Linked DNA regions of Homo sapiens. The protein of the gene in region 3 interacts with the protein of the main gene of each other region in a pairwise test. Each region holds a gene or a part of one and is shown on either strand. Other genes may lie near its edges. The genes, in order: MISP, SIGLEC6, PAX6, HMBOX1, QRICH1, AP1M1 and KCTD7.

Region 1 (4,403 bases), on a different chromosome or scaffold from region 3:
CCTGCAGGGGTCCCCCTGGCCGGGGAGCTATGAGGGGCCCCCTTGTTCGCCTGCTCCAGACTCAGGAACTGCTGTCTCGCTGCCAGGAAGTCAATCTGCTCCCTGTCAACCACGTTCTCCTCCAGGGGCGTGGACCGAGGTGGGCCGGGGGTCCTGGGGTCTCCGTGGTCAGGAGTGCCCTGGAGCGTGGCCACGGTGCTGCTCTTCCTGACTGCCTGGCCCTGGATGACGGCCCAGCGCTCCCGCTCCAGGTCACACAGCCTCCTGGGGTCAGCGTCCCCAGCATCCAGGCGGTAGGTCTTCATCTCCTTGTCCTCCCCGTCCTCTGGGCGGAGTGCCCATGTTGGACGTCCCTGGTGGGCATCCCTGGCGCCCAGGCGGTAAACCTGCCAACCCTCATCCTCCCTGTTCTCCGAGTGGAGCCCCCGTGGGGACGGCTGGCCAGTGTAGGCATGCACGCTGTAGGACACCCCCTGCCTCTGCACGCCCTGCTGGGCCCTGTGGTCAGTGGGCCATGTCTGCGGCTCATCCTGGCCCCAGCCGCTGGCCTCGGGGCCCATGCACACCAGATGGTATGTGTAGCTGGTGTCTCCATCCAGCACCAGGCCGGTGCCACGGTGTGCCTGAGGGATGCCCAGGATGGGGTATCTGGTCACGCGGTCCATCTCTTCCGGGGTCTTGGCCTCAGCCTTCCTCCCGTGGGGTGGAGACCTCTGGGCTTACTGAGGGAGGAGAAGGAAATGAGGGCCATCAAGTCAGAGCACCTAGGGAGAGGAACAGCCTCCAGTCCCCCAAAGGGCAAAGGGTCCATCAAATGGCCTTTGTGATTGGTTTAGGGATGGGTAAGTGACACAGTCCAGCCACTCAGAGCAGCCCATTCTCTAACCTCTGTGATTGGTTTAGGGGTGCGTAAGTGACAGTCCAGCCAATCAGTGCATCCCATTCTCTAACCTCTGTGATTGGTTTAGGGGTGCGTGACACAGTACAGCCACTCAGAGCAGCCCATTGTCTAATCTCTGTGATTGGCTAAGGGATAGGTAAGTAACTCAGCCTGGCCAATCAGAGCATCCCACCTTCTGGCCTCTGTGATTGGTTCAAGGATGAGTAAATGGCCCAGCCTGGCCAGTCAGAGTAGCCCATTCTCTGGCCTCTGTGATTGGTTCAGGGATGGGTAAGTGACTCATCCTGATCAATCAGAGCATCCCACCCACTGGCCTCTGTGATTGGTTCAAAGATGGGTAAGTGACCTAGTCCAGCCAGTGAGAGCATTTCACCCTCTGGCCTCTGTAATTGGTTCAGAGATGAGCATGTGACCCAGTCTAGCCAATGACATGAGACCCTGGGACTTTACAATTAATGCAGAAGATGGGACCCTCTTCCCGCTGGTCTTGTTAGGCTGATGGAATGAGATAGTGAATTGCTGGGGACGTAAATGCCCCCAGTGGGTACAGCTTGCTTGACAGCAACCCCAACACCAGCAAAGCATCCTGAAAACTTTTAAGCTCCCTGATTCCAACCATACCTGAATCTCTGAATGTCCCGGTTACTACCCCAACAACTCGCATTATATGTTTCTAACATTTGCAGCCCAATAAAATCAGGGTGCCCTGCCCACCTTATCTCCCAGACACACACACCTGCCCTGTGGAGTCCAGCTCAGCCTTGATTTTTTTTTTTTTGAGATGGAGTCTCGCTCTGTTGCCCAGCCTGGAGTGCAGTGGCACAATGTCAGCTCACTGCAACCTCTGCTTCCAGGTTCAAGCAATTCTCGTGCCTCAGCCTCCTGAGTAGCTGGGATTACAGGCGCTAACCTCCCAAGTCCGGCTAATTTTTTGTATTTTTAGTAGAGACGAGGTCTCACCATGTTGGCCAGGTTGGTCTCGAACTCCTGAGCTCAGGTGATCTGCCCGCCTCGGCCTCCCAAAGTGCTGGAATTACAGGCGTGAGCCACCGCGCCTGGCCTCAGCCTTGATCTCTGAAGCCTTCCTTGGCCGCACCATATTTATCTGTGTCTCCTGTGCACTGAGCCTTTCCACCCTGAGCTCACTCTGAGACTCCTGGTGTGGGATTTTTCCATCTGACAATTACAGATGGCCCCTTGCTAAGGGATGTCAAATGGAGAAACTGAGGCCCAGAGAGAAGGACTGACAGCAACTCCAGTTTCCCGGCTCCCACATCCTGGTTCTCCACCCTGCCCTGCCCAGCTGGACACCTCGTCCCATCTGAGACAACATCCCCGCCTGGGCCTTGTCGCCATAAAGCCAGGATGGGCAAAGGAACACCGTGGACCTTGTCCCGCTGGGCCCAGGTGGGGCCGTGGAGCGAGCGGGTGACACCCTGACCCAGTGCCTTCCGGCTCTCGCCCTCTCCCAAGGGTCCAGGTTGCTGCTGGGCTCAGTTCCAGGAGCCTTCCCGGAGGTCACACACCTGCTCGCATCGCTTCTGTGGCTCCTGGCATCTGCAGGGCACAGTTCTCACACCCTGCTCCTGGCCTTAGCACGAAACCCCAATTTCTGTGGGCACCTCCACCCCAAGCCAGGCCCTCCTCTTCTACCCCAAACCAGACCCTCCTCTTCCACCCCAAACCAGGCCCTCCTCTTCCACCCCAAACCAGGCCCTCTTCCTCCACCCCAAGCCAGGCCCTCCTCTTCCACCCCAAACCAGACCCTCCTCTTCCACCCAAACCAGACCCTCCTCTTCCACCCAAACCAGGCCCTCTTCCTCCAACCCAAACCAGACCCTCCTCTTCCACCCCAAACCAGGCCCTCTTCCTCCACCCCAAACCTCGCCCTCCTCCTCTACCTGCAGCTCTCTCTGTCTCGAGGCTGCCTGTTTCTGCTTCTCCACGGCTTCCTCTGCTGAAGCCCATGGACACCTCCTCCAGGAAGTAACCCAGATTGCCCCTCCCCCAGAGCCATCATCTGAACACCTCCTTCATGTCAGGCCTTGTACCCAGCACCCGTCTTAGGTATTGTCTTTTGTTTTGAGACAGAGTCTCGCTGCGATGCACAGGCTGGACTGCGGTAGCGTGATCTCAGCTCACTGCAATCTCCACCTCCCGGGTTCAAGCAATTCTCCTGCCTCAGCCTCCTGAGTAGCTGGGACTACGGGCACCCGCCCCCACACCCGGCTAATTTTTTCTTTTTTTTGAGGCGGAGTCTCACTCTGTCGCCCAGGCTGGAGTGCAGTGGCGCGATCTCGGCTCCCTGCAAGCTCTGCCTCCCAGGTTCACGCCATTCTCCTGCCTCAGCCTCCCTAGAGCTGGGACTACGGGCGCCCGCCACCACGCCTGGCTAATTTTTTGTATTTTTAGTAGAGACGGGGTTTCACCATATTAGCCAGGATGGTCTTGATCTCCTGACCTCGTGATCCTCCCGCCTCGGCCTCCCAAAGTGTTGGGATTACAGGCGTGAGCCACCGCGCCCAGCCAGGACACCCGGCTAATTTTTGTATTGTTAGTAGAGACGGGTTTCACCATGTTGGCCAGGCTGGTCTTGAACTCCTGACTTCAGGTGATCCGCCTGCCTCGGCCTCCCAAAGTGCAGGGATTACAGGCGTGAGCCACCGTGTCCAGCAGACATCATCTTTCATAGTTGAGGAAAGGAAGCCTCACCTGAAGACACAGGGATCTCAAAAGCTTGAGCTCCTGACTCCTAAAAAAAGCACTGTCGGCTGGGCACAGGGGCTCAGGCCTGTAATCCCAGCTACTTGGGAGGCTGAGGTGGGAGAATCACTTGAACCTGTGAGGTGGAGGTTGCGGTGAGCTGAGATTGTGCCATTGCACTCCAGCCTGGGTGACAGAGAAAGACCCTGTCTCAAAAGAAAAACAAACCCCCACAAAGCAGGACTGTCGCTCCCGGGCCACCAAGGCTATTATTTAGATCTGCTGCCTTTACACCAACCAGCAGCATTTTTTTTTGTTTTTAAACAGACAGGGTCGGCCAGGCACAGTGGCTCACACCTGTAATCCCAGCACTTTGGCGGATCACGAGGTCAGGAGATCGAGACCATCCTGGCTAAAATGGTGAAACCCCATCTCTACTAAAAATACAAAAAAAATTAACCGGGTGTGCTGGCGGGCGCCTGTAGTCCCAGCTACTCAGGAGGCTGAGGCAGGAGAATGCTGTGAACCCGGGAGGTGGAGCTTGCAGGGAGCTGAGATCGCACCATTGCACTCCAGCCTGGTGACAGAGCTAGACTCCGCCTCAAAAAAAAAAAAAAAGAAAAAAAGAAAAAAAAAGAAAAACTTAGCCCCTCTCTGAACTGGAAAGTGGCATCAAACAGCATAAAGTGGAGAGACCGTGGGGAGCCGTGTTGAAACTACACGCAATGTGTCATGCAATCTTCCGCGCGTATCAAATGTCAGAAACTAAAATAGGGGAAACATTGAAAACCAGGCGGCA
Region 2 (3,079 bases), on a different chromosome or scaffold from region 3:
CCGGGTGCGGTGGCTCATGCCTGTAATCTCAGCACTTTGGGAGGCCGAGGAGGGCAGATCACGAGGTCAGGAGATCAAGACCATCCTGGCTAACACGGTGAAACCCCGTCTCTACTAAAAATACAAAAAATTAGCCGGGTGTGGTGGTGGGTGCCTGTAGTCCCAGCTACTTGGGAGGCTGAGGCAGGAGAATGGTGTGAACCCAGGGGGCGAAGCTTGCACTGAGCCAAGATCGCACCACTGCACTCCAGCCTGGGAGATACAGCAAGACTCCATCTCAGAAAAAAAAAAAAAAAAAAAAAGCTAGCCAAAGCCAGATACAAGGCATTCATTTACAAAAATATACAGACTTTATGAAAACCTTTGTGTCAGGGCCTTTGTTAGCTGTTTTACAGCTAACAAAGCTGTATGTTAGCTGTATGCTTTCTTTGACCTTTCACAATAATCTGGTTAGATGGAAATTATTTCCCTGCCTTACAGAGCAGGGACATAAAGCGACTTGCTCAATAGCTGGCATAGATGGAGTTGAACTCAGTTCTCTTGGACAGAAGTCCTGTGGTCTGCCATATATACGAAGGTATTTATATAGTCCATTTACAACAAAAACATTAATTTTAAAAGAATTGGACACAGTGTTATGGGCTAAATTGTTCCCTTCTAAAATTCATATGTTGGAAGTCCTAAATCTCAATATCTCAGAAGGTTACTGTATTTGGAGGGTCTTTAAATAGTTAATTTATTTAAATTAGGTCATGGGGAGGCCCTAATCCAATATGACTAGTGTCTTTATAAGAAGAGAAGATTAGGACACAAACACACTCAGAGGAAAGACCATGTGAAGACACAAGGAGGAGACAGCCATCTACAAGCCAACAAGAGAGGCCTTAGAAGGGACCAACCCTGATAACACCTTGTTCTCAGACCTCTAACATCTGAAACTATACGAAAATAAAGTTCTGTGTTTATGTCACTCGGTTTGTGGTACATTGCTGTGGCAGCCCTAGTAACCAATACACTGAGAGGTACCATGTTCTCTCCAATCAAGGTTATGGCTTTGGACAATTCCTCACTTGTGTATCTTGATTTCTGAGTACTCAGTGTCGGTGACCTTTGGTTCCTGAGGTTGCACCTTGTGGAAGTGTAGGACAGCGTAGTGGAGCTCCTGCTCATCTTCTGAGATGGGGCCAGCCTCAGCAGGGTGGTCTGAAACTATGCCTGTCTGGAACTGGTGCTGATGACCCTTAATGGAAGAAAAGAAAAGATTCAGGGCTGGACAATAGGTTCTCAAAGAAAGCAGCCAAGGATCAGAAAGGGAGTAGAACTGATGGAACTTTATTATTTATCCATTCATTTATTATTTTATTTTATTTCATTTTATTTTATTTTATTTTTGAGATGGGGTCTCGCTCTGTTGTCCAGGCTGGAGTGCAGCGGCATGATCACGGCTCAGGCAGCCTTGAACACCTGGGTTCGAATGAACCTTCTGCTTCAGCCTCCTGTGTAGCTGGGACTACAGGCATGCACCCCACCTGGCTAATTTTTGTAGAGATGGAGTTCTACTATGTTGCCCAGGCTGGTCTTGAACCCTGGGCTCAAGGAATCCACCCACCTTGGCTTCCTAAAGTGCTGGGATTACAAGCATGAGCCACCACATCCACCGCATTCATTTATTTTAAAATATTTAATAATTAAGATTGGCAAGCCCTTAGTGAGTGTTTACATTAATCAGTCATATTCTATTCTCAAAAAATGCTTTGCAGTGGATTCCATGATTACATTCATCTTACAAACGGGAACACTAAGGCTAAGAGAGGCTCCACATGTTGCCTATAGACACACATCTATATAAATGCACCACTGAGAAGGACTCAGAACCAGCTTATTGTTGTGTAGGTCATGTGACATGTGCTAGATGTTAAGCCATGAAGAAAGCAGACACAGTCCCAGATAGTAGGCAGTGTGGTTTTCTATGAGATGCAGTTAGTTAAAAACAGGAAACAAAATCACTTTTTTAATTCATGATAGCAGATATTTTGAAATATAAAGCAGGGGCAGGAGTGGCATATCTGATTCCTAGACAGGTACTGGAGGACAGAACAGAGACCGGGTCCTGCAGTACAGGCCACCGGACGCCCTCTCCTGTACCTTCTCTTTCTAATGCCCCTGAAAACTTGAAAGTAAAGCATGGTAAAGAAATTATGTAATGATTCCCAACAAAGTGGGGATTTAACACACACTAAGTGTGTTATATCTCCAAATAAACCAAGAGGCAATACAAGAAATTATGGAATGAGCAAATAAGAAAAAGTGGGAAATCTCTGGGGAAACAAAATATTTTATACTGGAGTGTGTGTGTGTGTATATGTGTGTGTGTGTGTTCAGGGAGGCATTGGTGACAGTGCGTGAATGGCTACAGAAATGAGATTTATGTTCCACTCATGTCTTTCCTCCATCATTGGGATAATATATTCCTGCCTGCATTCTTGCTACACAAATCAGTGGCAAAGTCCGAGACTAAAGGTGTGAATTTCTGCAGGAGAAATGACAGATCAGCACAAAAGCCCTACTGAATGAAGAAAATAACAGGTGGAAATTGCCTCTCCCTGGGCTTCCCCTGGCCACCTTCCCCCATCCACACATCCCAGACTTTTGGAAGACAGTCTAGGTATTACCTCCCCCAGCACCAATTTTTCCTGAGGGTCTGAACAACAGGAATCATGACTTGAATTATTCTTGGTCAGTTCTCACTCAGGCTATGGTAGAGTAACTGGCACCCTCCCAGCATAATTAGAAAACTATACATAGTATGTAAAATATGTGTTTCACAAGGAAAACAGGCAGACAGGACTGTGACATCTGAAAGAAAGGAAACCAATGAGGTGAGTCTCATGATCAAATGACAATTTCCAAACTGCAGTACGTGGAGGATAAATTCAAGCAGAACACAAGAGTCTTATGAAACTGTGGAGGCAGCAACTGCAGTTCAAGTGGGAATGATGTGGGTGGAATTTGTAGAGCAGAGTACAGAGAGAAAAAACTACACAGAGAAAGAACTCCAAAAAATATGCATAGAGGTCCC
Region 3 (4,403 bases):
GAGCGCTTTTGATACTTATGGCCCTTGTACCTCCCTGCTTTCCTCTGCCCAGACCCCGTGGGGTCCCACCCACCTTCCTGTTCGTGGTGGGTGCTGGTACGCGGCAGGGCTAGTCTAGAGCTCCGACCTGGGAGCCTGGAGGCCCAGCGAAACCAGGCCCGGTTTGAGGTTACGGTTGAGGCACACGGCGTCGGGGCTCAACTGAACTCAAAGTGTGGAAAGGCCCGGGTCTTCCAGCAGCCTGCCCTGGCCGAACCACACAGGCTTAAGGAGGGTCCCCAGCACCTTATCCATCTGTTTTGGAAACGCCGGTCGCCCCCTGGTGCTTCCGGGGCTGGTAAGCGCGTAGCTGAGGAAAGGGCACAAAGGTGGCGAGCTTTGCGGGAGTAGTTGTGCAGAACCTGCCGGACCCCAGGGCTTGGCCGGTAGGCTCGCCTTCGGCGGCTGGGCTCTCCCCTTGGAGCTCAGACTCCCCAGCCGCAGGCTGTCTCTCGGGCGGGCCCCAGCCAGGGCGCGCAGCCCTGAGCGTTTGTCGCTGCGGCCCGGCTGGCAGGCCCCGAGGGGCGCGGGGTCGCGGGCCGGCCGGCAGGGCTTTGTGCCGCTCGTTCCCGGGTGTGCGCGAGGCGCGGAGCATCCAAATTGACACCATATGTTTTCCTATTAGTTGCTTCGCGGTCGAGTTCTAGGCGCATAATCATCGCCAGTGGGCGAGAGCGCCAGCAGTCCCTAGGGAAGGGACACAATGATTGAGGCTTAACCTCTGAAGGGGAATTTGGAGCTGCGCTTTCTCTCTGCCATTTCGATGCTGGGAGTGGCGCTCTGGCCCTGGCGTCTCCTGGGCAAGCACCAGCCGGCGGTATCTGCGGAGGTGGCTGGCACGTTGTTATTTTTTGAAATGAGTGAGGAGGGAGGTCTAGATTTAGGCGGCCTTACGCGCCCGCCTTGGCATTAGCAGACTGGGAATTGCCGTGGCTATGCCCGAAGTTTGGAAAGTCTCTCTCGGTCTCTTTCTGGGACAGCCTTTCTTTTTCCGGGAAGCTTCCTGTGCCTAGAGGTGGGGCTCTGTAGCTGGAGGGGTAGATGGAACTTGCGAAGCAAAGGAAGGCAATAAAAGGAAGTTAGGAGAAACCGGAAACGTGGGCCAGGCCTTGCTCTGTTGGAGAAGCGGTGTCCCCGCAAAGTCCCTGCTTGCGCTGGTCCCGGCCGGAGCCCAGATCCCCCAAACGCCTGTCACTTCTCATCGAGTTGAGGCTCCGGCCCCCACCCGCGCCTTGGTGAGGGCCCCCCCTCAGCCCCAAGCCTTCGGCTACCCTGAAAACGCGGCTCCCCTCGAAGGGGAAACAAGTGCAGTTCAATCTCGTCTGAGTGATCTACAAATAAGGACGGAAAGGGTCGTTTTATCACGGTCCCGTTTGTCGTGACGATGCAATTTCCCGGAGCGGAGCACTGTCACAAAGTGACAAGGCTGCCACAAGCGCCCCGACTGATCTTTTCAATTAGCCTTCCATGCATGATCCGGAGCGACTTCCGCCTATTTCCAGAAATTAAGCTCAAACTTGACGTGCAGCTAGTTTTATTTTAAAGACAAATGTCAGAGAGGCTCATCATATTTTCCCCCCTCTTCTATATTTGGAGCTTATTTATTGCTAAGAAGCTCAGGCTCCTGGCGTCAATTTATCAGTAGGCTCCAAGGAGAAGAGAGGAGAGGAGAGGAGAGCTGAACAGGGAGCCACGTCTTTTCCTGGGAGGGCTGCTATCTAAGTCGGGGCTGCAGGTTGGAGATTTTTAAGGAAGTGGAAATTGGCAATTGGCTTTGTGTGTCTGTGGTTTTTGGGGAGGGGGACTACAAAGAGGGGCTAACTCCCTCTCCCTATTCTCTAAGGTTGGACCACAGGGATGAGGTTGTGAGATACAAAGATAAAGGAGGGATGGGGAACACTATGATGTGGTATTTTTCTTTTCTGTTTTTTCTTTTTGATAATATCTATCCTTGGCTAAGGGGAGGGCGGAGTTCAGCGGCGGAAATAAAGCGAGCAGTGGCTGGTGCGAACCGACTCCCGGCTCTAAGCCTTACTTGCGGTGGCCGGACTTGTCTGTGGCTGAAGCCGAGCCCGGGCTCTGACTCTCACGTCTGCACTGGAGGTGCGGAAACCTGGACTGGGGTTCACCAGCCACATACTGGCTGCTCTGGTTGTTCTCTCCTCTTCCTTCTTCTATTCTAACCAAACAAAACCCAACTCGATGCTTGTGCCAGGCCTTGGCCAGTTTGGACGGTGATGGAAACATTTCTGGATTTTAGCGTCTAAGGGAGCACTCAAGGGCTGTAAGGTTTGCTATCACTGTCCCAACACTGCAGAGACCTTGAAGGTTCAGTGTGGGATCTGTAGAACCCATGGTTTGCGGTGACACTCAGAGGGGATCTTTGGGAGATTTATAGAGCCGGTTCTTAGCGCTTTGTGGGTTCAGAGGCTGGCTGCAGTGTTTATGAAGAGGGGCAGTGGGCTGGGGACACTGCTGGGGTTATGGCTGTAGTGAGGTCCATGTGTACTTGTTCCTTGGCATGTGTCTGACTCTGTGTTGCTGCTGCAGTACAGTGGGCAGGGGCACGGTTGCTTGGACTGGGCTGCCCGATGTCTGGCATGGCTGGTGGTCCTGTTGTCCTTTATTTGATCGATAGCAGGGAACTGACCGCCGAGGTTGGCACAGGTTGGCAGGGGGATGAGGATGCATTGTGGTTGTCTCCTCCTCCTCTCCTTCTTCCTCTTCCCCTTCCTCCTCTCCTTTCTGTTCTTGTTCTCCCTCATCTTCCTCTTCCTTCTTCTCCCTCTTCTTCCTCTTCACTCTGCTCTCTTCTCTTCTTTTCCCCTTTCCTCTCCTCTCCCTTTCCTCAGGTCACAGCGGAGTGAATCAGCTCGGTGGTGTCTTTGTCAACGGGCGGCCACTGCCGGACTCCACCCGGCAGAAGATTGTAGAGCTAGCTCACAGCGGGGCCCGGCCGTGCGACATTTCCCGAATTCTGCAGGTGATCCTCCCGGCGCCGCCCCACTCGCCGCCCCCGCGGCCCTCCACTCTCAACGCCCTCTCTTCATTTCTTACTGTAAACGATGCTAATTATGGACCCCCCCACCCTCACCCACCCCAGTCCCCAGTCCCCCCACCCACTCCCCTGCCTTCCCACTTTCCCCTCTCCTTCCACCATCCTTCCCTATCTCTTTCAACCTGGGTCAGTTACATAAGATAACTCATCTGCTTCAGAAAAATATTGTGTGCGGATTTTTTTAAAAAAATCTTTCTCTTTTTATTTGGTAAAGACATTCATTGTGGGAACAGTTTATGAACCGTAATAAGCTGAGTTATATAAACCGGCATAATTTCATTCTGCTCTCCCCAGCCCATGCTTACCTCAGCTTTTGAGGTATTTGTTTATTCTTCATGTTTATGAATAATATATATTGATTTTAAAAGGCAAATGCTATTTACTCCTCCCTAACTCACATTTACTCAATTGAGTATTTTTTAAAGAAGAAGAAGTAAAAAAATCAGTTTATTTTTTACCTTTGTTCTTTAAAACATAACGCCACTTTAAGCAAGGTCAGCACAAAAATAAATTTATCTACTTCGTTTTGATGCATCTTCAGGCAGTGTTTAAGAAAAGTTTTTTTTTTAAAAAAAGCTTTTAAATTCGTTTTTTAGTTCAAATTGTTTGAAAGTATCATCATATTTGTAGTTTTTAGGGCTACAAATGTAATTTTAAGAAAAAAAGCTCTCTACAGTAAGTTCTCATACCATTGAAGGTATATTTTTGTGTTATAGACCCATGCAGATGCAAAAGTCCAAGTGCTGGACAATCAAAACGTAAGCTTGTCATTGTTTAATGCATACTTAAACAATTTTATTTTTGTCTTGAAATTATTAATAATGTGGTTTTCTGTCCACTTCCCCTATGCAGGTGTCCAACGGATGTGTGAGTAAAATTCTGGGCAGGTATTACGAGACTGGCTCCATCAGACCCAGGGCAATCGGTGGTAGTAAACCGAGAGTAGCGACTCCAGAAGTTGTAAGCAAAATAGCCCAGTATAAGCGGGAGTGCCCGTCCATCTTTGCTTGGGAAATCCGAGACAGATTACTGTCCGAGGGGGTCTGTACCAACGATAACATACCAAGCGTAAGTTCATTGAGAACATCTGCCCTCCCTGCCCTAAGCCCAATGCTCTCTCCTCTTTACCTCCTCCCACCCTCTCTCTCCACTGTCTCTTAGTCTGTGTCCTCTCCCTGCTCCACATTTGTCTCCTTTGTACCTGGGGGAACAGAGAGGAATGCCCTGACTTTTCTTTGACTGTCTGGAAAATGGGAGTCAAGTGTGGGGAGTCATTCACTTCATTTGCATGCTGCAAAACAGAGGG
Region 4 (4,403 bases), on a different chromosome or scaffold from region 3:
ACAGAGTTTAAGAAAATGAGCTGATGCCATAACCATAAAAACTAGATGTTTAGGGCATAATACTGTTAAGTACAACATCTAGAAAAATAATCATATTTACGCAAAATATAGCCCATGTCACGATCTACTGACATAAGCAATCAGAGAGGATGGACACAGTGTTTAATATGAGGCAGGCAAATATCAGGAAAGAAACACTCCCAATTATAAACAGATATTTGAGACTTCCACAGAACAAAGCATATAATAGGTTCTAAGTAGACATTATGCTGTCTATGCATTTTCCAAGCATTCTGAGGACTATACCAATTAGAATTACCTGATATACTTATGAAGGATATATATTCCTGGGCCCATCTCAGATTTTAGGAATCTGGGGGTAGAACTCAGGAAACAAAATATATATATATATATATATTTTTTTTTTTTTTTTTTGAGACGGAATCTTGCTCTGTAGCCCAGGCTGGAGTGCAGTGGCGCAATCTCAGCTCACTGCAACCTCTGCCTCCCAGTTCCCAGTTCAAGCAATTCTCCTGCCTTAGCCTCCCGAGTAGCTGGGATTACAGGCGCGCCATGATGCCCAGCTAATGTTTTAGTATTTTTAATAGAAACAGGGTTTCACCATGTTGGCCAGGCTGGTCTTGAACTCCTGATCTCATGATCCGCCCACCTCAGCCTCCCAAAGTGCTGGGATTACAGGTGTGAGCCACTGCGCCCAGCCAGAAACTAAAATTTTAATACTTTTTCCAGGCAATTCTTCAACACAAAAGTTGAGATCACTGTTTCCTTCTGTTGTAGCCTAAGTGCTTAGAACTCTGTGACTCCCCAACTATTTATCTCCTGTGGCTTTGTAATCTGACTCCAATCTTCTAGGTTCCTTAGTTGCCTATCCTTGACTTGTACTTATTTCTAAAAATCTTGGCCCTGGTTTGGTAATATAATAAAGACTTGGATATGGAAATTTTAGCTCTGAAGTCCATATAAACTCCAATACTGACATAGGAATAAAAAGCTCCAGTTCCTTTCCCTGAAATCATGGAGCTTTTGTTAAATATCACCTATGGTGTTGACTGGACATTGGATTGACCCAGTATGTCAATTCTTTTGTTGCCAGATCTGCAGAGAACAAGATGCTCACTACTACAGACTCAACTATTTGAATTCCTGCTTATTGTCTCTAAAGAAAGAAGGCACAAATTTTCTTGTCAGGGATGAATGACATTTGCTAAGAGAACAGTTGTCACTATATAGATAGAGGGTGCCTATGAGAATGTTCCAGTTCCTAGAGTAGTGATGAAATGAGTTCTCCTAAGATGTCTCTAGATCTTAATGATGGGACAAAAGAATGTCTACTTGATATGAATAAGAGCTTCTTTATTCAATAAGGGATAGTCTTTGATAGCAGCAATGAGGATCCTGATACAATGGCTTCTAGATACTTTCATGCTTAGTAGGTTAGTGATCCAAACTGTAGAGATAGTACGTTCATGTATCCAGGGCTACCTCTCATTCTCCTTCCTTAATCCTAGCTAGTTCTTATAGTCCTACTTTGTCATCTTTCTGGTTTGCCTGAGGTGACTAGAATAAAAAGCAAATCTTAAATTATAGGAGTCTTTTGCTATTTCCAGCAAACTGATCCTTGCAGAAAAGGATTAAATCCAACCTATCTTTGTATCCCACAAAGTACCTCATCACGCACTGCTAGACTTGACATGTTTAACTGAGTGCCTTGTTCAACACCAACAAGAGAACCCTCCTCATAAAAAGCATCTAAAAGCTTAAGCCTCATATAAAAGGTGCTTTCCACGCTACCTCCCACCAAGGTCACGGGATAAGGATAGACATTTAAGTCATGGTGGTCATGCAATGCATTCAGATTTCTCTCTTGCCAACTGAACTAAAAGAAACACACTGTCACCATCAACAGGTAAACTCTAGTTGAAAGAACAGTTCAAGTCAACACCATGGCAAATCAAATCCACTTACCAGTCAGAGAAGCAGAGACTATGAAAAACCAGGGCAATACAAACAGAACTGGAAGGGAGAAGTGAGAAAGGGAGATGAAGCAGACATGGAAGGAGATGCTGAGACAAGAAACCATTTATCACCAGAACGAGAGCTTGAGAGACTAGCTTCTCAGATTCCTAACGTTTCTCCCATTCACACAAGGTCTAGTCACTCTTCTTCAACCCAAAACAGCTGAATCCCTACAACGCCTGTCCTTGAAGCCAAATGATCCCTAATTCAAGCATTATTTTTTAGTACGTACACCAAGACAAATAGAAAGCTAGAAACATAAATCCAAGGAGGAAAAAATAATTCTACCAGGAAAAAACTGAAATCACAGGTAGCCAAAAAGCTTTGTAAATATGAATCTTATTTATCAGGAAGTACCATCAATATTTGTCATATTCCTGCTAATGAAACAAATTAAACTTTGTCTTTTTTTAATAGAAATTATCACAGTATTGACAAATGAAAAATTGTCTCAAACCCAGAGAAGACAAAAATCAGGTGATCTACCTTTATTTGTTAATACATTTGAAAATATTTTGTTAGCCTGTTTAAAGCAGACTTCCGTTGTTGTCTGTAATAATCGATAGTATATTGGATTAACAGCCTCATCTTTTAAGACAGGCTTTATAATCATATGGCTGATTAAGGGGCAGCAAAGTATAACCAACCCTGTAACTATCCTTTAACTTGTACCTAACAAAAATAGTAACCATAACCTCCCCTTTTATTCTGTAAAGATCCTTTTTCTGAAAATATCTTTGAACTAACTTCCTTTAAAGCTAGTTCCCTTGCAACAAGTACAAAATAAAACTATGACATATGCTGACAATCAATTAATCTGACAAGTTTGCATTAACACTGTCAAAACCAAACTAATGTCAAAATAGCTGTAATTTTGGTTATCTAACACAGATTCTAACATATCCTCTCTAGCAACAAACATACCATGTAAGCCTTGAATTTATTTAAAATTTAAATCTTTTTTTGTTTGTTTGTTTGAGATAGAGTCTCGCTCTGTTGCCCAATCTGGTGTGCAGTGGCGCCACCTTGGCTCACTGCAACCTCCGCCTCCCAGGTTCAAGTGATTCTCCTGCCTCAGCCTCCTGAGTAGCTGGGAGTACAGGTGTGTGCCACCACGCCCGGCTATATTTTTGTATTTTTAGTAGAGGCAAAGTTTCACCATGTTGGTCAGGCTGGTCTTGAACTCCTGACCTCATGATCCATCTGCCTTGGCCTCCCAAAGTGCCGGGATTACCGGCATGAGCCACCACGCCCAGCCTCATTTAAATCTTACACATTTTATTTGTGGACAATTTCAATGTTATCGTTAACTTTTACCAGAAAATTTTAATGGGTCCTAATATTATAATTCCTCATTTAAAAAAAAAAAACTAGCCGACCAGTGGCTTACGCCTGTAATCCCAGCACTTTGGGAGGCCAAGGCGGGTGGATCACCTGAGGGGGGATTCGAGACCAGCATGACCAACATGGAGAAACCCCGTCTCTATTAAAACTACAAAATTAGCCGGGCATGGTGGCGCATGCCCATAATCCCAGCTACTCAGGAAGGCTGAGGCAGGAGAATCACTTGAACCTGGGTGGCAGAAGTTGCGGTGAGATGACATCGCGCCATTGTACTCCAGCCTGGGTAACAAGAGCGAAACTCCATCTCAAAAAAAAGAAAAAAAAAAAAAACCTAGCCAATATTCAGATTCTCATAACAAAAAAAAAAATTGGTATGTTTGCAATGTCAGGTTCATCTAAAAAATAAACTTTTAAAAGAAAGTTTAAGTGGAATTTTTCATAAAAACTTTCAGGATGTGCCAATGCAACACTTAATGACAGAGATACACTCTGAGAAACGCACCATTAGGCAATTTCATTGTTGAGCGAACACCATAGAGTGTACTTACACAAGCCTAGGTGGTATAGCCTATTGCTCCTAGGCTACAAACCTGTACAGCATGTTACTGTATTAAACATTGTAGGCAACTGTAACGCACTGGAAAGTATCTGTGTTTCTAAACCTTGGAAAAAGTACAGTTAAAATATGATATAATCTTATGGGACCACTGTCATATATTCAGTCCGTTTTTGACTGAAACATCATTATGTACTACATGACTGTATTACATAAGGCAAAGAGTGAAATTACTGATCCAATAATTGGTTATCTTTCTCCTTAGCTATATTGACAAAACAACAGAACTTATGAAGAGGAGGAGAATCATTCAATCTTTGCAGTAAGAGTTCTGTACCTTGATTTTGGTGGTGATTATGCAATCTACACACCTGTGATAAAATGGCATAGAACTATACACACACATTGTACTGATGTCAATTTCCTGGTTTTAATATTGTATTAAAGTTATGTAGGATGTAACCAA
Region 5 (4,403 bases), on a different chromosome or scaffold from region 3:
ACTGCACTCCAGCCTGGGCGACAGAGCGAGACTTGGTCTCAAAAACATATATATGTATATATAAATTAGGTCTGGGCGTGGTGGCTCACGCCTGTAATCCCAGCACTTTGGGAGGCCGAGGTGGGCGGATCATGAGGTCAGGAGATCAAGACCATCCTGGCTAACACGGTGAAACCCTGTCTCTACTAAAAATAAAAAAATCAGCCGGGCGTGGTGGCACGCACCTGTAGTCCCAGCTACTCGGGAGGCTGACACAGGAGAATCGCTTGAACCGGGGAAGTGGAGGTTGTAGTGAGCCGAGATCGCACCACTGCACTCTAGCCTGGGCGATAGAGCGAGACTCCGTCTCAAAAAAAAAAAAAAAAAGTTAGCTGGATGTGATGGCAGGCACATGTAATCCCAGCTACTTGGGAGGCTAAGGCAGGAGAATAGCTTGAATCCGGGATGCAGAGGTTACGGTGAGCCGTGACTACCATATCACTCCAGCCTGGGGAACGAGCGAAACTCCATCTCAGAAAATAAATAAATAAGGCTAGGCATGGTGGCTCAAGCCTGTAATCCCAGCACTTTGGGAGGCCAAGGTGAGCGGATCACAAGGTCAAGAGATCGAGACCATCCTGGCCAACCAACATGGTGAAACCTCGTCTCTACTAAAAATACAGAAATTAGCTGGGGGTGGTGGCATGCGTCTGTAGTCCCAGCTACTCAGGAGGCTGAGGCAGGAGAATAGCTTGAACCCAGGAGGCGGAGGTTGCAGTGAGCTGAGATCATACTACTGCACTCCAGCCTGGTAACAGCGAGACTCTGTCTAAAAAAAAAAAAAAAAAATTAGCTGGGTGTGGTGGTGGTGTTCCTGTAGTTCTAGCTATTTAGCAGGCTGAGGTGGGAGGATCACTTGAGGAGTTTGAAGTTTAAAGTGCCCTATCATCTTATCACGGTACTCTAACCTGGGCAACAGAGCAAGACCCTATCTTTAGAGAAAAAAACGGTCCCTTGTGATGGCTCACGCCTGTAATCCCAGCACTTTGGGAGGCCAAGGCGGGCGGATCACGAGGTCAGGAGATGGAGACCATCCTGGCTAACATGGTGAAATTCCATCTCTACTAAAAATACAAAAAAAAAATTAGCCGGGTGTGGTGGCAGGCACCTGTAGTCCCAGCTACCCGGGAGGCTGAGGCAGGAGAATGGCGTGAACCCGGGAGGCGGAGCTTGCAGTGAGCTGAGATGGCACCACTGCACTCCAGCCTGGGCGACAAAGCGAGACTCCGTCTCAAAAAAAAAAAAAAAAAAGAGTGAAACTCCATTTCAAAAACAATTTTTAAAATGCTGGCCGTGGTGGCTCACGCCTGTAATCTCAACAGTTTTGGAGGCCAAGGTGGGCGGATCACTTGAGGTCGGGAGTTCGAGACCAGCCTGACCAACATGGAGAAATCCTGTCTCTACTAAAAATGCAAAATCAGCTGGGCATGGTGATGCATTCCTGTAATCCTAGCTACTCAGGAGGCTGAGGCAAGAGAATTGCTTGAACCCAGGAGGTTGAGGTTGCAGTGAGCCAAGATCATGCCACTGCACTCCAGCCTGGGCAACAAGAGCAAAACTCCGCCTCAAAGAAAATGGAAATAAAAATGCCGGCCGTTTCGGCTCACACCTGTAATCCCAGCACTTTGGGAGGCCGAGGTGGGTGGACCAGTTGAGGTCAGGAGTTCAAGATTAGCTTGGCCAACATGGTGAAACCTCGTCTCTACTAAAAATACAAAAATTAGCTGGGTATGGTGGCACATGTCTATAATCCCAGATACTCGGGAGGCTGGCTTCAAGAATTGCTTGAGCCTGAGAGGTGGAGATTGCAGTGAGCTGAGATGGCACCACTGCATTCCAGCCTGGGCGACACAATGAGAATTTGGGGAAAAAAAAAAAGAACCAAAGTTTTGATATTTCCTTGTTAGACTCCAGCATGTCTGTAATCCCAGCTACTCTAGGAAGCTGAGGCAGGAGAATCGCTTGATCCCAGCAGGCGGAGGTTGCAGTGAGCTGAGATTGCGCCACTGCATTCCAGCCTGGGCGACAGAGCGAGTCCATCTTAAAAAAAAAAAATTTTTTTTTTTGGTATTTCCTTTTTAGGCCCCAGTTAATTGTCTTGCTTGCTCTCTGGGGTGGATATATGTCCCTGTTATTGTAATGTGCTGCTGGACAATCCTGGATCTAGTCTTACGTATTGTGTCCTTCTCAGAAGCCTTGAGTATGCCAGTGTTTTCTCACATTTTGCAGGTCCCCTGTCTGGGATCTCTTTTCTTTCTTTCCTTGGGTACTGGATTTTCAGTGCTGCCTGGTTCACTCACTGATGAATCTTGTTGCTTACAGGTCCAGGTGCAGGTACAGCAGTCTCCGCAACAGGTCTCGGCTCAGCTCTCCCCACAACTCACCGTTCACCAGCCTACTGAGCAACCCATCCAGGTCCAGGTGCAGATCCAAGGCCAGGCACCACAGTCAGCAGCCCCCTCCATTCAGACCCCGTCTCTGCAGAGTCCCAGTCCCTCGCAGCTGCAAGCAGCTCAGATCCAGGTGCAGCACGTGCAAGCAGCCCAGCAGATCCAGGCTGCAGAAATCCCGGAGGAGCACATCCCACATCAGCAAATCCAGGCTCAGCTGGTGGCTGGCCAGTCTCTTGCTGGTGGTCAGCAGATCCAAATCCAGACCGTGGGTGCCCTTTCCCCACCACCATCCCAGCAGGGCTCACCCCGGGAAGGGGAGCGGCGGGTTGGCACGGCCAGTGTCCTCCAACCAGTGAAGAAGCGCAAAGTGGACATGCCCATCACTGTGTCCTACGCCATCTCAGGGCAGCCGGTGGCCACCGTGCTGGCCATTCCACAGGGCCAGCAGCAGAGTTATGTGTCTTTGAGGCCAGACTTACTGACAGTAGACAGTGCCCACCTGTACAGTGCCACTGGGACCATTACTAGCCCTACAGGAGAAACCTGGACCATCCCTGTTTATTCTGCCCAGCCCCGGGGGGACCCTCAGCAGCAGAGCATTACCCACATTGCCATTCCCCAGGAAGCCTACAACGCAGTTCACGTCAGTGGCTCACCCACAGCCCTGGCAGCTGTTAAGCTGGAGGATGACAAGGAGAAGATGGTGGGCACCACATCTGTAGTGAAAAACTCCCATGAAGAGGTAGTGCAGACCCTTGCAAACTCTCTCTTTCCAGCACAGTTCATGAATGGCAACATCCACATTCCAGTGGCTGTGCAGGCTGTGGCAGGCACGTACCAGAATACGGCTCAAACTGTCCATATATGGGACCCCCAACAGCAGCCGCAGCAGCAAACTCCCCAGGAACAGACACCACCACCACAGCAGCAGCAGCAGCAACTCCAAGTTACTTGTTCAGTAAGTGAAGACTTATCAGTAGGGCAGGCAGCCTGGTCCCTCAGGGCCCAGTGCAGCACAGAGCTTGCCTCGCAACCTCTGGCTTATTTACTGCTGTTACTCTTACAGTGATGCAGTATTTAGTATTTGGGAGAAGAGGGGGAGAAACATCACGTGAGGCTATGCAACAGAAAAAAGAGTTTATCCTGGTACCTGGAGGTAAATGAGATGGCCAGGAATTGCTTTGGAGTTTTGGAGACATTTTGGGTTTAAGTACCATGGACACTTCTTTGTAATCTCTTCTCAGGAAGAGTAAAGTTACAGGTGTAGATGAATGGGACACCTCAAGTGTGTCCCAGTGCTGTTTCCTTGTATCATAAGTAAATGGTTTTAGCAAAACACTTGTAGTTTATCACATAGATTACAAACTCATCACTGGAGAGGCTGTGAGATTGTTCATTCTGTTTTTCATCTTTGGGCACACAGTGTGGGTGAATTAGAAAAGCTAAAATAACTCATAAGGAGCCTGTTAAAAGTGATCACCATTGGGAGGCTTGAATATGCCGTCTATGTGGTGGGACCTCCCAAGAGTTTTTGTGTTACGGGGGCGGCCGGGCGAGGTGGTGCACTTCTGTAATCCCAGCACTTTGGGAGGCCGAGGCAGGCGGATCACAAGGTCAGGAGTTTGAGACCAGCCTGGCCAATATGATGAAACCACGTCTCTACTAAAAATACAAAAATTAGCTGGGCATGGTGGCAGGTACCTGTAATCCCAGCTACTCGGGAGGCTGAGGCAGGAGAATCACTTGAACCCAGGAGGCAGAGGTTGCAGTGAGCTGAGATTGCGCCATTGCATTCCAGCCTGGACAACAGGAGCAAAACTCTGTCAAAAGAAAAAAGTAGGGGCCAGGCACGGTGGCTCATGCATGTTACCCCAGTACTTTGGGAGGCCAAGGCGGGTGAGTCACCAGAGGTCAGGAGTTTGAGATCAGCTTGGCCAACATGGTGAAACCCCGTCTCTACTAAAAATACAA
Region 6 (4,403 bases), on a different chromosome or scaffold from region 3:
CCCCAGGGCTTATGAGAGATGGTGCTTCCTGAGTCCTGACCCCTTCTTGCTTCTCAGGGCCACCCTGAAGTGTGATAACACTTGATCCAAAATAATCAACTTAAATCCAGTCACAGTGGCTAACACTGACAGCATTTCCACTGCGCCAGGCATTGCTCCACACACGCCTCGACAACCTCTGGGGCAGGGACTGTGGGGAGATGACCTGAGGGGCTGTAACCCACTGCGCATGCCGAGATGCATCTGAAAGTGCAACTGAAAATCCACACCGGGGCGACGGTCCTGCACCCCCTAGCCTGTCCTGCGTGAGCCAAGATGCTGGAGCATCTCTTCTTGCATCCATTTTAGAGGTGAGGAAACAGGCACAGATCAGAGGCCCCGTGCTGAGGGCACAGAGTGACTGGCAGAAGAATCGCTGGGGCTGCAGCCCTGGCCACCACTGCACACTGCTATGCTGCACGAGGCCATGCTCACACCAGCAAGTGGGCCAAAGGCCACCGACTTGGATACCTGGGCCCAGATGCTGGCTCCAGCCAGGCTAACATGTGCAGGGCCTGCATTTCCTGTCTGCAGAGTGGCAGGAGAGTCTGTGCAGTCTTATGCATGATGTCCAAAAAGCACTGGGTAGACAAACAAAAGCCCCTCACCAGCTTGCCGCCTCTGAGGGAATTGGGAAAACTGAGGTGCCAAGCAAATGACAGCCCTGGGAGGGGCAGGGAACCGGACATGGCCCCAAGGGCTCCGGTTCTGTCACCTTCCCCAGCCTCACCTCCTCGTGCTGTCCTGTCCTCATCTCGCAAGCGGCTCCCTGATCCCATGGTGCACAACAGCTTCCCTGCGTCTGCCTGCTTGTCTCTCTCTCTCTCTCCCTGCTGGGGGAAGCCACGTGGGGCTGCGCGCTGCCGTGTCCAGCACCAGAAACAGCGTGTGTGGCAGGAGGTGCTCAGTGGGCAAGCGGAGGCTCAGGAGCTCGGGACCCTCACTGGCCGGGGCTCCAGGAGCCCGAGCATTGGGATTTTGCCTGCCTCTTTCTCGGAGGGCCCTCCACTCCACTGTGACGGCCCCTAATTCCCCTTGGGTGCTGCCTCCCCCTCAGGGAGTTGGGACTGGCCCTGGCAGCCAGCTGTAACTGAACACATGAGGTCGTGAATGCCGCGAGAGCAGGCCCAGGGAGTGGAGCTGAAAAGCTGCCCAGCCCACGAGGCTGATCTCGGCCCTGCGGGCAGCAATCAGAACCTTCTCAGCTGAGGTGTGACCAGCCACGCAGAGCCGGTGCCCTTCCCAGGGCGGGTGCTGAAGGGATGCTTGCTCAGGGCCCGGCTGTGTAAGTACCAGGCTGCACTCAGATGATCGCATCTGGAGGCAAATGTTGACCCAGCCACCAGCTCTGCAAGCCACTTAGGAAGGTGGCATCCTGACAGCTGCCCTTGTGCTGACCTGTTTGGAGGAGTGGGATCCTTCCGGGCGGAGCCACATGCAGCAGCGCACTGTGGCGGGGACCCCCGCAGCCCTAGCGCTTTCCTGCTCGACTCTCTCTAAGCTGCCCCCTGGGACTTGCCTTTGCACCCCACAGCACCCAGATGGACCCTGTTTTCGGCTCAATAAACAATCAGACAAGAGTCCCCAGGGGAGAGGGGAATGTGGTTAGCGAGGCCACTGTCCCGTCCCGGAAAGTAAGAAAGCGAAGAGGTCTGCACGGAGTGCGCGAGACAGTCTTTCTGGGCAGCACTCTCCTTGGCAATTCCATGTCTGCAGCCTCAGTCCTCCAGAAATCCTGGCCCAGGTCACGGAGACACCCAAGTGCACACGTCTGGGGCTGAGCAAGCGTGCTCAATGCTGCACTGCCAGTGGCCGTCAGAAACGGGACCTGAGTGACCTGCATGACTGGATTGGCTGAGCCCATACAGTCCACCCACACCGCAGGGATGAGGCCAGCGTGAACACAAAAGAAAGCAAGCGGCTGGTGAGGCAGGTCGGCTGGCGCCCCTTCCCCTGCCACTGACTACAGCTCTGAAACCTGGGCAGGAGGCTTGGCAGCTGCCGGAAGACTGAAGACAGCAGCAGGTGGACCAGGGAAGAGCCACGAATGCAGAGTGTTCCCACCGCCCCCCACGAGAAAGTGCAGCAGCAATCTGGAAGCAGAAGTGTGCACCACAGAGCACACGAGAGCTCAGCAGAGCCTCCAGGCCTGGCTCTGGGGCCAGAAGAGGAACTCCTGACTCTCCTGGAAAACACAGAAGCCCCCCATCTCCCCTGTTCCTCATGCCCCAGGCCCTGTGGTGCCAGCTACTGTTCCGAGGGGGTGGGGCAACCGTTGTCCTTTTCTCTCTCTGTCCTCTCTCCATGTGGGCTGGGAAGTGGGCCCAATGGCAGACGTGTACAACAGTAAACCGCAAGGAATCAGAAAAGTACCAGGTAGACAGCACAGAGCCAGAAGCTCAGGAAAGTCACCCCATGAAGTGGTTTATGTCTCCAGAACTCTCTAGAATCGAGCATCTGTGAATCCTGTGCATATACCATAGTTTGACTTACGAAAGAGTTTGAGAACTGAACTAACCACTCGGGTCCCAGAATGACCACTGGGCAGTGCACGCCCAGGAGATCTGACCAGGAAATGGCACGGGGGCTTTAAAAACTGACGTGATGCTCATGGCCTACAGGTTGGGGATTGGAACTTGTGGCCTGAAAGTAAGATTGGCTGTTGGCTAAAACAAAAATATCAATATTTCCCATATAGCTTAAATAAGACCTAGAGTATCACCACATAATGCTCAAAAAGTCCAGGATGCAATCCAAAATTACTCAGCATACAAACAACCACGAAAATGTCAACTTGCCTGGAAAACCCAATCAACCACTGTCAACACTTCACAGATGTTGGGATTATCTGATGAAGACTTTAAACAGCTATTTTTAAAATTGCAAATGCTTGCAACAAATGTTAAAATAGAAAGTCTCAGCAAAGAAACAGATGATAAAGAAGAATCAACCAGGAGTTCGAGACTAGCCTGGGCAACACAGCAAGTCCTGGTCTCTACAAAATAAAAAATAAAAAAAAATTAGCCAGGCATGGTGGTGCGTGCCTGTGGTCTCAGCTACTCAGCACACTCAGATGGGAAGATCACTTGAACACACGAGGTTGAGGCTGCAGTGAGCTATAACTGCACCACTATACTCCAGCCTGGGCAACAGAGTAAGACCCTGTCTCAAAACAAAAACAAAAACAAAAACAAACAAAAAGAGAAGAATCAAATGGAAAATTTTTAAAAATATAGTAACTGAAATAAACAACTTGCTCAATGGACTTAATAGCAGAATGGAGGCCAGGTACAGTGGCTCATGCCTGTAATCCCAGCACTTTGGGAGGCTGAGGTGGGAAGATCACTTGCCCCAGGAGTTCTAGATCAGCCAGGGCAACACAGAGAGACCCTCATCTCTACAAAAATTTTTTTTTAAAAATTAGCCAGGCTTGGTGGTGCACACCTGTAGTCCCAGCTACTCAGGAGGCTGAAGCAGAAGGATCGCTTGAGCCCAGGAGGTTGGGGCTACAGTGAGCCATGCTTGCTCCATGGCTCTCCAGCCTGGATGACAGAGTGGGAACCTATCTCAAAAAAAAAAAAAATAATAATAATAATAGTAATAATAATAATAACAGAATGGAGATAAACAGGAAAGGGCCAAAGGACCTGTGAACTTAAAGGCAGTTCAATGTAAATTATCCAATCTAACAGAGAGAAGAAAAGATAGAATAAAATAAGCAGCCTCAGGGACACATGATATAATAACCAAAGGTCTTTCATGTCACTGGAGTCCTGAAGGAAGAGTAAAATGACAAAAACATATCTGAGGGCTGGGTGCGGTGGCTCATGCCTGTAATCCCAGCACTTTGGGAGGCTGAGGCAGGTGGATCACCTGAGGTTGGGAGCTTGAGACCAGCCTGATCGACATGGAGAAACCCTGTCTCTACTAAAAATACAAAATTAGCCAAGTGTGGTGGTGAATGCCTGTAATCCCAGCTACTCGGGAGGCTGAGACAGGAGAATTGCTTTGTAGAAAGTAAAAAAGTTCCTCTTCAAAGTTTCCCTTCTCACTAAAGAATAAATCATAAGTGTTAGAAATAATGTACATTCTATGTCCTTGTACTTTAACCGAAATATTTGTTTTAGACATAAAGGATGTTAGATATAAGGGAATGAGTACATTCTGTGTCCTTGTACTTTAACCAAGATATTTGTTTTTAGATGTAAGGGATGTTAGATATAAGGGAATGAGTCAACTTCCTCTTTTTCCTTTGTTCTCCCTTGCCTTTATCTATTTAGGAAAGTTTTAAGTTATTAGCCAGTCAGGTTTAGCTTAGATTGTGAGGTCTGGCTCCAGCCAATGGAGATAGGACACAGCAGCAG
Region 7 (3,236 bases), on a different chromosome or scaffold from region 3:
CGCCCGGCTGCGTGCGGTCCAGCGGAAGGCCCGCTTTGCCAAGCTCAAGGTCTGTGTCTTCAAGGAGGAGATGCCCATCACCCCCTATGAGTGTCCGCTCCTCAACTCCCTGCGATTTGAGCGGAGTGAGAGTGACGGGCAGCTTTTTGAGCACCACTGTGAAGTGGATGTGTCTTTTGGGCCCTGGGAGGCTGTGGCTGATGTTTATGACCTGCTGCACTGCCTGGTCACGGACCTCTCGGCCCAGGGTCTCACCGTGGACCACCAGTGCATCGGGGTGTGTGACAAGCACCTCGTGAACCACTACTACTGCAAGCGCCCCATCTATGAGTTCAAGATCACATGGTGGTGAGTAGCCCCGGTAGGCGAGAGTCCCATCAGGGAGGATGTCCACCTTGCTTGGTGGCTCTGGGAGTAAGATCCCTGAAGGGGCTGCTGACTGCCCCAGAATCTGCCGAGGTGAGAACAGCATCCTGAGGCACAGCTCCCAGGGGACAGAGGTGTAGCTCCAATCTCCCTGACTGCACCTCAGGGTTGGGCTCAGGGCTTGCGGCCTGCAGGCACTCCAGCCAGCGCTCACCTGGCCTTTCCTCAAGGCATGGTAGTCTTTCCTTGAGGCTGATAGCTAGGGCTTGACCAGGAAGTCCCGAGAAGTTTTGTCACCTTCTTGACCTTGCAAGAGAGTTTCTGCCCATTTTAGAGCCACGTTACCAAATCGATGTAGGCCTAATCACTTCCTCAACCCTGTTCAAGCGTCCCTCCCTTGTGCTCAGTATATTGGTGTGAACACGGAACATGATGGGGGATTTACCTGACCAGCCACCCCATAGCCCCTGGCTGAAGAAGAAAGAGCATCTTCTCTCCCACTGCACCCCTTCTCCTCCAAGAATAGTTGCCCACATTCCCAAAATGTGGAAAGACTTTTCTTTTCCTTCCGGAACATGTTCTTCACCACCTTTTGGAGATTTAACCATAGCTGCCAAAGCTATGCACCCAGTTGGCCTTAGAAAACCACAATGTTTACAGCCCTGTCTTAGGGCCGCGGCTTCTCTTATCTTCCACCACCTTCCTTGCTTGCAGGGTTATCTTCTCACAGGGCTGGAATGCAAATTTCAGAGGCTTCTTTTGAAGATTCCCCAAGTCAAGCAGGCAAGATGCCTAGATCTTCTGTTATCTTTGACATGTAACATCCTTTTTAGAGGCTCAGAACACCTCCTTGGCTGCTATCTCATGTGTTAGAATCCAGTTTGTGGTGAACCTCTTTGGAAGGGGACCCCCTCTCTTTAAACCCTGTTCCTCTGTCCTGGTAACATTCTCCTTCTAGGAGAGCCTCTCTTCTGAGAAGGTAAAGGAAGGGCTGGGTGAGACACACAGCTATCCTAGGAGCCGTAGGAAGACAAAACTTCCCTTTTGTTTTACTCCTCACTCCTCTATTTTTGTTTTACTCACTTCTTTATATTTTGTTTTACTCCTCACTCCTGTATATTTTGGTTTACTTACTCCTCTATTTCAGAAATTGAAAAAGATCCCCAAGGATCTGTTACTACTGCATTTCCTTCTTGCTCTGTCTACAGCCTAGGCCAACTAGTCAGGGTCTGGACATGCATCTCCTAAAGGAAGAACTGTGTAGCACCATTGATCACAATGTAACATTTCCATGCTGCATTAAGGGTGTCTCTCTCTAATCATGATTGTACCTGTCTCTTCCTGGGTAAAGGGAGATTTTTTTTTTTAATGTGTAAAGAATTGATGCGAGCCAGGAACATGTCTGTAGTCCCAGCTACTTGGGCACACGCCTGTAGTCCAGGCCACTCGAGCACACACCTGTAGTACCAGCTACTCTGGAGGCTGAGGCAGGAGGATCACTTGAGCCCAGGAGATTAAGACTGTAGTATACTATGATCGTGCCTGTGGCTAGCCACTGTGCTCCAGCCTGGGCAACACCATCGTAAAAATAAATAAATAAATAAATAAATTGGGGAGGACAGCCTCACTGGTATCAGACTTACAGGACCAGATAGACAAGATGGGTATAAGGGGAGCTGAAGTCTGTGTTCATATGAGGAAGAGAAGACCAAGCCCTGGGACTTTGGCTGAATTCCTCCGTGGGGCTGGACGGCAGTGATCTCCTGTTCCCTATGTGTAAACAAAGATTCCAGGGCGTGGTTTTGCACTCCTGTTGTACTCTTTTAGAGGTGGAAAAGAGGTGGATACTGAGATCTAAGAGGAAAGGATAGTCATTCACGTTCTGAGATATGCGCTCTCTCTATTGTTCTCGTACACAAAGGGATAGTCTCTTTTCTGGAGCTGATGTCCCTGCTTGGAGGTTAGCCCCAAAACATGGCTCTTGTATTGTTCTAAGAGAAAAGGCTTTCATTTTGGTTCTTCTGATTGGTGTTACCTACTGCCTAATATGTGTTCATTTTTTGACAGAGAGGCAGACTATTGAAAAAGTCTGTGTGAACAGAGAGCAGTTCATTAAGCCCATTGCTTTCAGTAATGTGGCCTTGACCCCTTCTGCTTCCCCCTTCTCCCATGGAGCATGGCAGGGCTTGGTTATTTAGAGTCCATACATGCAAGCCATTGAGAGACTTGTTTGCTCAAATGCAAGTTTGCTCAAAAACAGGTCCTGAAGGCTTGCTTAGGATTACAGGGATGCTGGGTAAGAACACCGTTCCTCTCTCTCGCTGGAGAAATCCCTGTTTCTCTGACTCCCTTTGTGATCCTCACAGTAATGTATTCTGTGCCACTGTAGGACACAAGGCTCTGGGCCAGTAGAACAGGCAGAGAGGTGACACTGGGCAGCAAGCTGAGAGCTCTTTCTAAATGGAGTGAAGGAATTCAGTGGCCTAGTTTCGCCATTCTCTAATGAGAAACCAAGGCCAGGCTGAAAAGTGCAATTAGATGTGGTGGATTGTGGTAACGGCCTCCAGATAAAGGGGTTATCCCTGTGGAAGTGACTTTTCCCCATTTGATCCCTTTTCAACTCTAAATGGCCAGGCCCAGAACAGAAGAAGGGTTGGGTCTGGAAGGAAGGCTCCAAAGGATGAAAGCTTCTCCCTGATCATAAGGAAGTGCATCTTTATAGAATTGTTGTGCATAATGTCAGTAAATCCCTCTCACTTGACAAGGGACTGGATTCATCTTGCCTTGAGACGGGCCAGTAGTTATCAGTGAGTCAAAGCAAAGTGAAAGTTTCAGGAGATGGGACCAATGGTGCAATGCTCGCCATAACA

The links.
Region 1: the proteins of PAX6 (region 3) and MISP interact in binary tests that used the Homo sapiens proteins (3 or more experiments, as listed by UniProt).
Region 2: the proteins of PAX6 (region 3) and SIGLEC6 interact in binary tests that used the Homo sapiens proteins (3 or more experiments, as listed by UniProt).
Region 4: the proteins of PAX6 (region 3) and HMBOX1 interact in binary tests that used the Homo sapiens proteins (3 or more experiments, as listed by UniProt).
Region 5: the proteins of PAX6 (region 3) and QRICH1 interact in binary tests that used the Homo sapiens proteins (3 or more experiments, as listed by UniProt).
Region 6: the proteins of PAX6 (region 3) and AP1M1 interact in binary tests that used the Homo sapiens proteins (3 or more experiments, as listed by UniProt).
Region 7: the proteins of PAX6 (region 3) and KCTD7 interact in binary tests that used the Homo sapiens proteins (3 or more experiments, as listed by UniProt).

The regions. Positions count from the first base shown.
Region 1 is NC_000019.10:753,209-757,611, reverse strand, and holds part of MISP (mitotic interactor and substrate of PLK1), read right to left. Parts: intron 3,166-4,403; exon of another isoform or gene 2,803-3,165; intron 723-2,802; 5' UTR 666-722; coding exon 1-665. UniProt on the Homo sapiens protein: Plays a role in mitotic spindle orientation and mitotic progression.
Region 2 is NC_000019.10:51,519,016-51,522,094, forward strand, and holds part of SIGLEC6 (sialic acid-binding Ig-like lectin 6 isoform 1 precursor), read right to left. Parts: intron 1,241-3,079; coding exon 1,067-1,240; 3' UTR 1-1,066. UniProt on the Homo sapiens protein: Putative adhesion molecule that mediates sialic-acid dependent binding to cells. Binds to alpha-2,6-linked sialic acid. The sialic acid recognition site may be masked by cis interactions with sialic acids on the same cell surface.
Region 3 is NC_000011.10:31,801,323-31,805,725, reverse strand, and holds part of PAX6 (paired box protein Pax-6), read left to right. Parts: exon of another isoform or gene 1-337; intron 338-684; exon of another isoform or gene 685-868; intron 869-1,666; exon of another isoform or gene 1,667-1,999; coding exon of another isoform or gene 2,000-2,142; exon of another isoform or gene 2,143-2,891; coding exon 2,892-3,022; coding exon of another isoform or gene 3,023-3,097; intron 3,098-3,813; coding exon 3,814-3,855; intron 3,856-3,949; coding exon 3,950-4,165; exon of another isoform or gene 4,166-4,403. UniProt on the Homo sapiens protein: Transcription factor with important functions in the development of the eye, nose, central nervous system and pancreas. Required for the differentiation of pancreatic islet alpha cells.
Region 4 is NC_000008.11:28,896,287-28,900,689, reverse strand, and holds part of HMBOX1 (homeobox-containing protein 1), read right to left. Parts: intron 1-4,403. UniProt on the Homo sapiens protein: Binds directly to 5'-TTAGGG-3' repeats in telomeric DNA. Associates with the telomerase complex at sites of active telomere processing and positively regulates telomere elongation.
Region 5 is NC_000003.12:49,055,849-49,060,251, reverse strand, and holds part of QRICH1 (transcriptional regulator QRICH1), read left to right. Parts: intron 1-2,361; coding exon 2,362-3,390; intron 3,391-4,403. UniProt on the Homo sapiens protein: Transcriptional regulator that acts as a mediator of the integrated stress response (ISR) through transcriptional control of protein homeostasis under conditions of ER stress.
Region 6 is NC_000019.10:16,221,431-16,225,833, reverse strand, and holds part of AP1M1 (AP-1 complex subunit mu-1), read right to left. Parts: intron 1-4,403. UniProt on the Homo sapiens protein: Subunit of clathrin-associated adaptor protein complex 1 that plays a role in protein sorting in the trans-Golgi network (TGN) and endosomes.
Region 7 is NC_000007.14:66,638,881-66,642,116, forward strand, and holds part of KCTD7 (BTB/POZ domain-containing protein KCTD7), read left to right. Parts: coding exon 1-352; 3' UTR 353-1,513; coding exon of another isoform or gene 1,514-1,514; 3' UTR 1,515-3,236. UniProt on the Homo sapiens protein: May be involved in the control of excitability of cortical neurons.